Linked DNA regions of Homo sapiens. The gene in region 1 interacts genetically with each later gene. Each region holds a gene or a part of one and is shown in the gene's direction. Other genes may lie near its edges.

Region 1 (3,655 bases):
GGGGTTTCACAGTTTTGGCCAGGCTGGTCTCGAACTCCTGACCTTTAGTGATCCGCCCGTCTTGGCCTCCCAAAGTGCTGGGATTACAGGCGTGAGCCACTGTGCCTGGCCAAATGCCCAGCTAAAATTTTTTTTTTTTAAGATGGAGCTTCACCCTTGTTGCCCGGGCTGGAGTGCATTGGCAAAATCTCGGCTCACTGCAACCTCCGCCTCCCAGGTTCAAGTGATTCTCCTGCCTCAGCCTCCCAAGTAGCTGGGATTACAGGCATGTGCCACCATGCCTGGCTAATTTTGTATTTTTCGTAGAGACAGAGTTTCTCCATGTTGGTCAGGCTGGTCTCATACTCCCGACCTCAGGTGATCCGCCCGCCTCAGCCTCCCAAAGTGCTGGGATTACAGGCATGAGCCCCCGCGCCCAGCCTCTTTTTAAAATATTGGAAAATTACTGATAAAACTAAAGATCCTTTTGACCCCTTATTTTCCCATCTTAGAATCCTTTCCTTTTTCCTTAGAATAATTTCAGTTATGACTTAGTTGTGCTTTTGTTCAGATTTTTTTAAATACTTTTTTTTAACTTTTTAGTAGCGATCAGGTCTCACTATGTTGCCCAGGCTGGTCTCCAACTGCTGAGCTCAAGTGAACCTCCTGCCTCAGCATCCCACAGTGCTGAGATTACAGGCGTGAGCCACTACACCCAGCCTCAGATTTTTCAAAATACTCTTTTTTGAGACAGAGTCTCGCTCTGTTGCCCAGGCTGGAGTGCAATGGTGCGATCTCAGCTCACTGCAACCTCCTCCTCCCAGGTTCAAGCGATTCTCCTGCCTCAGCCTCCCAAGTAGCTGGGATTACAGGCGCCCACCACCACACCCGGTTGATTTTTGTATTTTTAGTAGAAACAGGGTTTTACCATGTTGGCCAGGCTGGTCTGGAACTCCTGACCTTAAGTGATCTGCCCACCTCGGCCTCCCAAAGTGCTGGGATTACAGGCGTGAGCCACCACGCCCGGCTTAAAAATACTTCTAAACATACATGTGCCAGGCTGGGTGCGGTGGCTCATGCCTGTAATCCCAGTACCTTGGGAGGACCGAGGCAGGCGGATCTCATGAGGCCAGGAATTCAAGACCAGCCTAGCCAACATGACCAAAAATACAAAAATTAGCCTGGTGTAATGGCGCATGCCCATAATCCCAGCTACTCAGGAGGCTGAGACATGAGAATCACTTGAAGGACACGGAGGTTGCGGTAAGCTGAGATCATGACATTACACTCCAGCCTGGGTGACAGAGCAAGACTCTTGTCTCAAAAAAAAAAAAAAACAAGTGCCAATAGAAAATGCAAGTATTTTCTCACATCATTGATGTGCTCTCTGCATGGTTCTGCAGTTTACTATTTTAAATCAATTATGTACGTCTTAAATTTCTCCACCTTGACACATTTAGTGATCCAGCAAATGCATTTAAAATTGTGATACTTCATTGTATGAATATACCATATTTCATTTAGCCTTTTACCTAGTAGTAAATGTATATCATCAGGTTGGTGCACAAGTAATTGCAGTTTTTACCATTGAAAGTAATGGTAGGCTGGGTGCAGTGGCTCATGCCTCTAATCTTAGCACTTTGGGAGGCCCCGGTGGGCAGATTGCCTGAGCTCAGGAGTTCAATACCAGCCTGGGCAACATAGTGAAACCCTATCTCTACTAAAAATACAAAAAAAAAGTTATCCGGGTATGGTGGTGTGCACCGGTGAGCCAAGATCACGCCATTGCACTCCAGCCTGGGCGACAGAGTAAGACTCCGTCTCAAAAAAACAAAAGGAGAAAGTAATGGTAAACAACCTAATAGATTATTTCAGATTTTTTGCTTTTACCCACAGGACTATAATACATTTCTTGTCAGTTCTCCTAGGGTAGCTATATATTATTAGATGTTGACTATCAGGGCTTTTTTGGCCTCTAAACATGATATTTAGTCAAACAACTGTCTTAATTTTTTTTTTCTATTCTCCATAGGGATGCCATTGAAAAGTTATTTCCTGATGCCATTAGACTGAGATTTGAAGACATTCAGCAGAATAATGACATAGTCCAAAGTCTTGCAGCCTTTCAGAAATATGGGAATGATCAGATTCCTTTAGCTCCTAACACAGGCCGAGCGAATCAGCAGATGGGAGGGGGATTCTTTTCCGGTGTGCTCACAGCTTTAACTGGAGTGGCAGTAAGTTGATCACTGTGTTCCTCTGTGCCCCCCCACACCTCACCCCCCGACCCCTGATTTCCACTGAAGTCAGTTCTGTTGAAATCACTGAAATAATTGATGATGTGACTCCATGTAATTTACTACGTACATTGAAATCTGCTGGGTTCTATGATTTCCTCAGGAATGTTGCTTACTCAGGTAGATCAGATCATAGTACCTAGTAAATGGAGAAAGGTGGTAGAACTGGAATTCAAGACCATGTCTGCCTTGGTAATACAATCTTTTTTTGTTTTGTTTTGTTTTTGAGACGGACTCTTGCTCTGTCGCCCAGGCTGGAGTGCAGTGGTGCGATCTAGGTAAAAACTTTCTTTTAGGGTGGTGAAAATGAACTAAAACCAGCTGTGGTGATGATGACACATATTTGTGAACACATTAAAAACCGTGGATTGTGTGCACTTCAAATGTGTGAATTTTATGTGGATTACATCTCTTGCTCTTTTTTTTTTTTTTTTTTTTTTTGAGATGAAGTCTTGCCCTGTTGCCTAGGCTAGAGTGCGGTGGCATGATCTCGGCTCACTGCCACCTCCACCTCCCGAGTTCAAGTGATTCTTCTGCCTCAGCTTCCCAAGTAGCTGGGATTACAGGCATGCGCCACTACAAGAGGCTAATTTTTGTGTGATTAGTAGAGATGGGGTTTCACCATGTTGGCCAGGCTGGTCTGGAACTCCTGACCTCAAGTGATCCACCCGCCTCAGACTCCTCAAGTGCTGGGATTATAGGCGTGAGCCACCACGCCTGGACCTCCTTGGTAATACAGTCTTAAGAACCCACCAGTTTACTAACTTCCAATGTGGAGACTATTTTCTTTTAAAGTTCTGTGCATAAAAAATCTAAATGTTTTTCCAGTAGAAAAGGCACAAGTCAGTTATGTTGAGCAAGTTGATGGAGTCAAGGCACCACCTGCTCCCAGGTGCCTGAGATAAGTCCTTTTCTCGCCTCTGTGCCCTCACTGCCACGCAATCAGCAGAGAGAGGCACCCGAGGAGAGCTGTGGTCCCCAGTTCTCTGTGGCCGTGGCGTTGCCCTGCTTTTGTTGCCCTGCTTCTGTGTACGGGCTCCGCATCATTCCCTGTGAGCTCAGCCTCTTCCTTTCCCCACCTCCCACCCGCATATTTAGAAACTGGCATCTCTGCCTCTCCATGGTTTAAAGTCCCTGTCACTTTTCCCCAGGTGGTCCTGCTCGTCTATCACTGGAGCAGCAGGGAATCTGAACACGACCTCCTGGTCCACAAGGCTGTGGCCAAATGGACGGCGGAAGAAGTTGTCCTCTGGCTGGAGCAGCTGGGCCCTTGGGCATCTCTTTACAGGGAAAGGTTTTTATCTGAACGAGTAAATGGAAGGTGAGGAGCAAAGTCTTCTGACACACCGTGGACATTTTAGAAAACAGCTTTCTTGAGA
Region 2 (3,655 bases), on another chromosome or scaffold:
TACTGCTACTACTGGCCAGTGATGAAAGCCATTTGCACAGAGCTCTGCCTTCTGTGGTTTTCCCTTCTTCATCCTACAGAGTAAAGTGTTAGTCCTATTTATACATTTTTCAAGATACAAGTTTATGAGAGAAATAGTATTATAACCCCAGTATGTTTAATCTTTTAGCTGTGGACTTTTTTTTTAACCGTACAAAACTGAAAGAACCATAGAGGTCAAGCCTCAGTGACTTGACACCATAAAGCCACAGACAAGGTACTTGGGGGGGAGGGCAGGGAAATTTCATATTTTATAGTGGATTCTTAAGAAATACTAACACTTGAGTATTAGCAATAATTACAGGAAAATAAGTGCGACCACATATATCTTAACATTACTGAATTAAAACTATGGCTTCTAAGTCCTTATCCAAACTCAGTCATCCAAACTAGTTTATTTTTTTCTCCAGTTGATTATCTTTTAATTTTTAATTTTGCTAAAGGTGGTTTTTTTGTGTTTTGTTTTTTGTAAACCAAAACTATACTAAGTATAGTAATTATATATATATATATATTTTTTCCCCTCCCCCTCTTCTTTCCTAACTAATTCTGAGCAGGGTAATCAGTGAACAAAGTGTTGAAAATTGTTCCCAGAAGGTAATTTTCATAGATGTTTGCATTAGCTCCATAGCAAAATGGAATGGTACGTGACATTTAGGGTAGCTGATATTTTTATTTTGTTAAATAATTTCCAAGAATAGAGTATGGTGTATATTATAAATTTCTTTGATAAGATGTATTTTGAATGTCTTTTAATCTTCCTCCTCCTCTCCAAAAAAATCAGAAACCTCTTTAAGAAAACATGTAGGTTATATATGCTAGAATTGCATTTAATCACTGTGAAAAGACTGGTCAGCCTGCATTAGTATGACAGTAGGGGGGCTGTTAGAATTGCTGCTATACTGGTGGTATGGATTATCATGGCATTGGAATTTTCATAGTAATGCAGATCCAATTTCTTTGTGGTACCTGCAGTTTACAAAATAATTTGACTTCAGTGAGCATATTGGTATCTGGATGTTCCAATTTAGAACTAAACCATATTTATTACAAAAAGATATTAATCCCTCTACTCCCAGGTTCCCTTTATATGTTAAGATATAATGGCTTTGAGGGGGGAAAAAATAAACCTAGGGGAGAGGGGAGTTTCCTGTAGTGCTGTTTCATTAGAGGATTTCAGTAAATTAAATTCCACAGCTAATTCAATAAATAATGGTACATTTAAGTGTTCTGATTTTAATAATATATTTCACATTTATCCACACAGTAACAATGTAATATGTTAATGTAAATAAAATTGGTTTTGATACTCAGAAATAACAAGAATTTAATTTTTTAAATTTGTTTACAGTCCTGGGAAAAGTAAGAATTATTTGCCAAAATAAGAGGAAAGAAAACCTTAGTATTATTAATGAGTTTACCATAGAATTGTTGGAAATACTGAAGACAGGTGCAATTTACTAAACTTTTGTTTTTAAACTATTGTAGAGGCTGCATTAGAAGAAAATGTTTATAATGACAGAGCAACTATGACTATATAAAAAAGCTGAAATTAGAACTGTGTTTAGAAATAGATCAGTAACCCAGTGCCAAGGATGCCAAGCTGCCACCATGGTCTTGGCTCTCCCACAACCCAGTGTTTCTGGGGTAAGTTTCACAGTTTCTAGGCCCTGGAATAGCAGGCAGTGTAAGCCTTTGATAACTTTAGTTCGATGTTTTTCTTGTTTTTGTTTGTTGGTTTGGTGCATATGATAGTGGGTGTTATGCTATTTTGCTCTTCCCATCAAAATAAAGAAACTTCCAGAGGTTTACTGTTAAAAATACTGATATTTCCATAAACGGGTTTACCAAGGGTGTAGTATTTCATACCGCCTGAAATGATCAGCATTGGCACAAATCAAAATTCAGCCGCCTTTGAAATGCAAAAATACCTTTGACTAGTAAGTACATCCTAGGAGTTTGAAAACTTAACTAAGGTTTAAAATTTACCTTGTTTAAAGAACTTCTGACTTTTGAGGAAAATCTAGCTTTCCAAGTAACTAAAATGTACATGAGATAAACCTCTCACCACTATGTGTCCCTTGAGAAATGCAACACTTTTTTAGTCTTCATACTTGTAATCTATAAAAGAAATTCTGAAGTTTAGACCAAGTTGCCCATTTCTGCGTAATTGACATAAGTTCTGTTAAAAATATTATAAGTAATTCGTTTCGGTTTGTAGATGTTTCCCCTGACTTGTTAAAGAGGAAACCAGGAACTCAGTCATGTTTTTGTCCTGGATAATCTACCTGTTATGCCAGTACTCCCATCCGAGGGGCATGCCCTTAGTTGCCCAGATGGAGATGCAGTTCAGTAGATTTGGGGCAAAGTGGCTACAGCTCTGTCTTCCATTCACTCAACACCTGTTCATGACTGAGCCAGGTGCCCAGGACACATCCTAAACAGTCAGCTTCTATCCTGTGTCCTAGTTGGGGAGACAGAGTGCCAGCCAGCAACCCTCCCAGGTTTGTAGGTTTTAGGGGTTTTCAGTTTTGTTTGGGTTTTTTGTTTTTTGTTTTTGTTTCTACATCCTTCCCCGACTCCCAGGCATAATGAGGCATGTCTTACTCAATGTTATGCAATGGATTTAGGCAAAAATTCATTCTTAGTGTCAGCCACACAATTTTTTTTAATGCAGTATATTCACCTGTAAATAGTTTGTGTAAAATTTGACAAAAAAAGTATATTTACTATACTGTAAATATATGTGATGATATATTGTATTATTTTGCTTTTTTGTAAAGCAGTTAGTTGCTGCACATGGATAACAACAAAAATTTGATTATTCTCGTGTTAGTATTGTTAACTTCTTTTTGCGACTGCGTTACATCATTTAAAGAAAATGCTGTGTATTGTAAACTTAAATTGTATATGATAACTTACTGTCCTTTCCATCCGGGCCTAAACTTTGGCAGTTCCTTTGTCTACAACCTTGTTAATACTGTAAACAGTTGTACGCCAGCAGGAAAAATACTGCCCAACAGACAAAATCGATCATTGTAGGGGAAAATCATAGAAATCCATTTCAGATCTTTATTGTTCCTCACCCCATTTTCCTCCTTGTGTATGTACTTCCCCCACCCCCCTTTTTTTAAGTAAAATGTAAATTCAATCTGCTCTAAGATATGAGGAGTTATTTAATTTCTTCAGATGTATCGAGCTCTGTTTTCTTCCCCCCGAGTCCTCCCAATCTTTTGAAACATTAAGGCCATTTTCCTTAAGGATGTTTTTGGCTCTCCTACTCCCCGTGAGAAAGATCTTTCCATTTCCAGAACTTCTCCACACTAAAAGTGAAATATTTTTGTGAAATGCTTTTTTAGGGCCTGCCAAACTCAGGTGAGTCTGTTCTCTGGGATAAGCTGGCTTCTCTTAAAATGAAGCCAGTCAGAAATGTCAGGGCATCCCAAGATTGACCAGTCAGAGGGCAGTTCTCTCCAACTTTTCAGCTTTCCCGCTATAGAATCTTCTGTGACACTACACGTGTATACAATGTAAACCACCTCCCCTGGCTCAGCTGCCCCGTGTTACTATTTTACTTACTTGATTATGTGGGTTGCCTCCCCCAATCAGTGGAGAAA
Region 3 (3,655 bases), on another chromosome or scaffold:
GGTTTGAGACCAGCCTGGCCCACATGGTGAAACCCCATCTCTACTAAAAATACAAAAATTAGCCAGGCGTGGTGGTGCATGCCTGTAATCCCAACTACTCAGGAGGCTGAGGCATGAGAATCACTTGAACCCGGGAGGCAGAGGTTGCAGTGAGCCAAGATTGCATCACTGCACTCCAGCCTGGGCAACAGAGCAAGACCCTGTCTCAAAAACAAAAACAAACAAACAAACAAAAATATATATATGCTTGAAAATTGCTAAGAGAGTAGATTTTAGTTGTTCTTACCACACAAAAAAATAAGTATTTGCGGTAATGGGTATATATTTGAGGTAATGGATTTGTTAATTAGCTTGATTTAGCCATTCCACAATGAGTACATCTATCAACACATGTTGTACATCATGAATATACACAATTTTTATTTGCCAAAAAATGTTTAAATATGCCATAAGTAAATTAAATAAAATAAATTTCTTAGAACATTATTTATAAAAATAAAGCAAAAAACCAGATCTGTCCAAATATAACTAATAAACTGACTCTCATTATTTAACACTCAAGAGTTGGCTGGCATCAGGATTTTCATAATACCATGGCCATTAAACAGTTTTCGTGAATCCAGGCCTTCGTTACCCATCTCTTCTGCTTCTTCCTCACCTTACTGACTTCTTTCTCATGTACACAGAGTGCGGAATATCTGTCTCATGAGTCACCAGCCTTTGGGCAGAACCCAAAAAATTAGGTGAACTAGAAATATATTGTTGCTAAGTGGCTCGGTTTATCAGACAATTCTAAAATGCCTACTAGGCTGCCTAGCTGCATACTTTTCTGCCTAATGTACAGGACCTCCATCTTGTGACTGTCAAAACAGGCTCCTAAATTATTTTGCATCATTTGGTGACAGGCAGTCTATACTCTTGTGCAACCAACAGGTGCCCAATAAATGCTTGGAATATGCAAGGAACTTGGCATTGTTTAATATAATTGAAAAAGCAAGCATGGACTTTGAAACTTTCCTGAATTTGAATTCTGTCTCCACTCCTTATCACCTTTAAGAATTTAGGGCCTGGTGCGGTGGCTCATGCCTATAATCCCAGCACTTTGGGAGGCTGAGGCGGGTGGATCACTTGAGATCAGGAGTTCGAGACCAGCCTAGCCAACATGGTGAAACCCCATCTCTACTAAAAATATAAAAAATTAGCCGGGCATGGTGGTGCATGCTTATAATCCCAACTACTTGGGAGGCTGAGGCAGGAGAATCGCTTGAACCCAGGAGGCAGAGGTTGCCGTGAGCCGAGATCCCACCATTGCACTCCAGCCTGGGCAACAAGAGTGAAACTCCATCTAAAAAAAAAAAAGAATTTAGGGAAGTTATTATCTTCCTGCATCTCCTTTCTCCTCCTATGTAAAATGAAAATAATAATGTCTAATTCATAAGCGTTTCATAAGGATATGATGAAAGCCCGATGCAGTAGCTCACGCCTGTAATCCCAGCACTTTGAGAGGCTGATGTGGGTGGGTCACTTGAAGTCAGTAGTTCGAGACTAGCCTAGCCAACATGGTGAAACCCTGTCTCTACTAAAAATACAAAAACTAGCTGGGCATGGTGGCAGGCGCCTGTAATCCCAGCTACCCGGGAGGCTAAGGCAGGAGAATCGCTTGAACTCAGGAGACTGAGGTTGCGGTGAGCTGAGATCGTGTCACTGCACTCCAGCCTGGGCAACAGTGCCAGACTCTGTCTCAAAAAAAAAGCCCGGGCATGGTGGCTCACGCCTGTAATCCCATAATCCCAGCACTTTTGGAGGCCAAGGTGGGCGGATCACCTGAGGTCAGGAGTTCGAGACAGCCTGACCAATATGGAGAAACCACATCTCAACTAAAAATACAAAATTAGCAGGGCATGGTGGCGCATGTCTGTAATCCCAGCTACTCGGGAGGCTGAGGCAGGAGAATCACTTGAACCCAGGAGGCGGAGATTGCAGTGAGCTGAGATTGCACCGTTGCGTTCCAGCCTGGGCAACAAGAGCGAAACTTCGTCTCAAAAAAAAAAAAAAAAAAAAAAGTGATACCACAACAGCTAGAAGAGGAGGCCAAACTGTTTTTTTTTTTTTTTTGAGACAGAGTCTCGCTCTGTCACCCAGGCTGGAGTGCAGTGGTGCGATCTCGGCTCACTACAACCTCCGCCTACCTGGTTCAAGTGATTCTCCTGCCTCAGGCTCCTGAGTAGCTGGGAGTACAGGCGCGCGCCACCACGCCCAGCTAATTTTTTGTATTTTTAGTAAAGACGGGGTTTCACAGTGTTAGCCAGGATGGTCTCAATCTCTTGACCTTGTGATCCACCTGCCTCGGCCTCCCAAAGTGCTGGGATTACAGGAGTGAGTCACCGCGCCCAGCCCCCATTTTACATTTTTTTATTTGTGCCCACTGCCTTTTTTCAGAGGATGCAGTTAGCAATTTCAGCCACTGGATGGTGCAAATTCACAAGAGTCCAGTGAAAGTTCCTCAATTACGGTCCAAGGTGCACCTGTTGCTACACTGCACCAAGTGAAGGAGGGTGGGGTAAAGGAAAGACTTTTTGGATCTGAAATTTCAGTATAAACATGGATCGAAGTTCACTAGAAGTTCAGATTGAGGGAAATTTTTAGAATTTGATCACTGACAAATCAGGTCATTGAATAAGGAAAGACAAAAGAAAAGTGTTGTAATAATGAAGAGGAAGAGAAAAAGGAACAGATGATGAAATATGAGGGAAAATAAGTCTAAAGAGATGAATTCAAGTGTTAGCAACAATTATAGTATGACCCTTTACTGGTTTGCATCTCCCTGGTAACTGATAGCAACTTTGATATAAAAATAAAGCTTACTTCATTCTCTTCTAGAAAGTCAGCTATGCTACCCTTAGCTTATCCATTTGGTGGTGTGACATTATCAACAAATATTTTTAGTATCTGCTATGAACATGGTGCTTTGTTGATACAAAGTAATATAGAGATATACAAATTAACACAGATACTGGGCTTCAAGCAGAAGAACCAGTAAGTACATATAAGAAGATAAGTAATTGACTGGATTAAGAAAATGTGGCACATATACACTATGGAATACTATGCAGCCATAAGAAAGGATGAGTTCATGTCCTTTGTAGGGACATGGATGAAGCTGGAAACCATCATTCTGAGCAAATATCGCAAGGACAGAAAACCAAACATCGCATGTTCTCACTCATAGGTGGAAATTGAACAATGAGAACACTTGGACACAGGGCTGGGAACATCACACATCAGCGCCTGTCGTGGGGTGGGGGGATGGGGGAGGGATAGCATTAGGAGAAATACCTAATGTAAATGACGAGTTAATGGGTGCAGCAAACCAACATGGCACATGTATACATATGTAATAAACCTGGACATTGTGCACATGTACCCTAGAATTTAAAGTATAATACTACTACTACTATTACTAATAATAGGGAAGATAAGTAATTCAAGGCAACCTGAGGGCCATTGTGTCAACTCAGAAAATGGAATACTTTTTGAAAGTGGGAGTGGAGTATCAGTGGGATGGGGAGGAAGGGATCATAGGACTCTCAACCTGTCCAGGGCAAACAAAAAATAAAAAGATTTCTTCTGGCCTTTAGTCATAAGTACATGCAGC

Evidence for each region.
Region 2: changes in BFAR (region 1) and NF1 together harm fitness more than expected from each alone (negative genetic interaction), as found in Homo sapiens cells (one large-scale study listed by BioGRID).
Region 3: changes in BFAR (region 1) and ACACA together harm fitness less than expected from each alone (positive genetic interaction), as found in Homo sapiens cells (one large-scale study listed by BioGRID).

What each region holds. Positions count from the first base shown.
Region 1 is NC_000016.10:14,646,377-14,650,031, forward strand, and holds part of BFAR (bifunctional apoptosis regulator), read left to right. Parts: intron 1-2,011; coding exon 2,012-2,216; intron 2,217-3,427; coding exon 3,428-3,597; intron 3,598-3,655. UniProt on the Homo sapiens protein: Membrane-bound E3 ubiquitin ligase that plays a role in several processes including apoptosis regulation or reticulum endoplasmic stress. Has anti-apoptotic activity, both for apoptosis triggered via death-receptors and via mitochondrial factors.
Region 2 is NC_000017.11:31,374,477-31,378,131, forward strand, and holds the end of NF1 (neurofibromin), read left to right. Parts: 3' UTR 1-3,199; downstream 3,200-3,655. UniProt on the Homo sapiens protein: Stimulates the GTPase activity of Ras. NF1 shows greater affinity for Ras GAP, but lower specific activity. May be a regulator of Ras activity.
Region 3 is NC_000017.11:37,396,690-37,400,344, reverse strand, and holds part of ACACA (acetyl-CoA carboxylase 1), read left to right. Parts: intron 1-3,655. UniProt on the Homo sapiens protein: Cytosolic enzyme that catalyzes the carboxylation of acetyl-CoA to malonyl-CoA, the first and rate-limiting step of de novo fatty acid biosynthesis.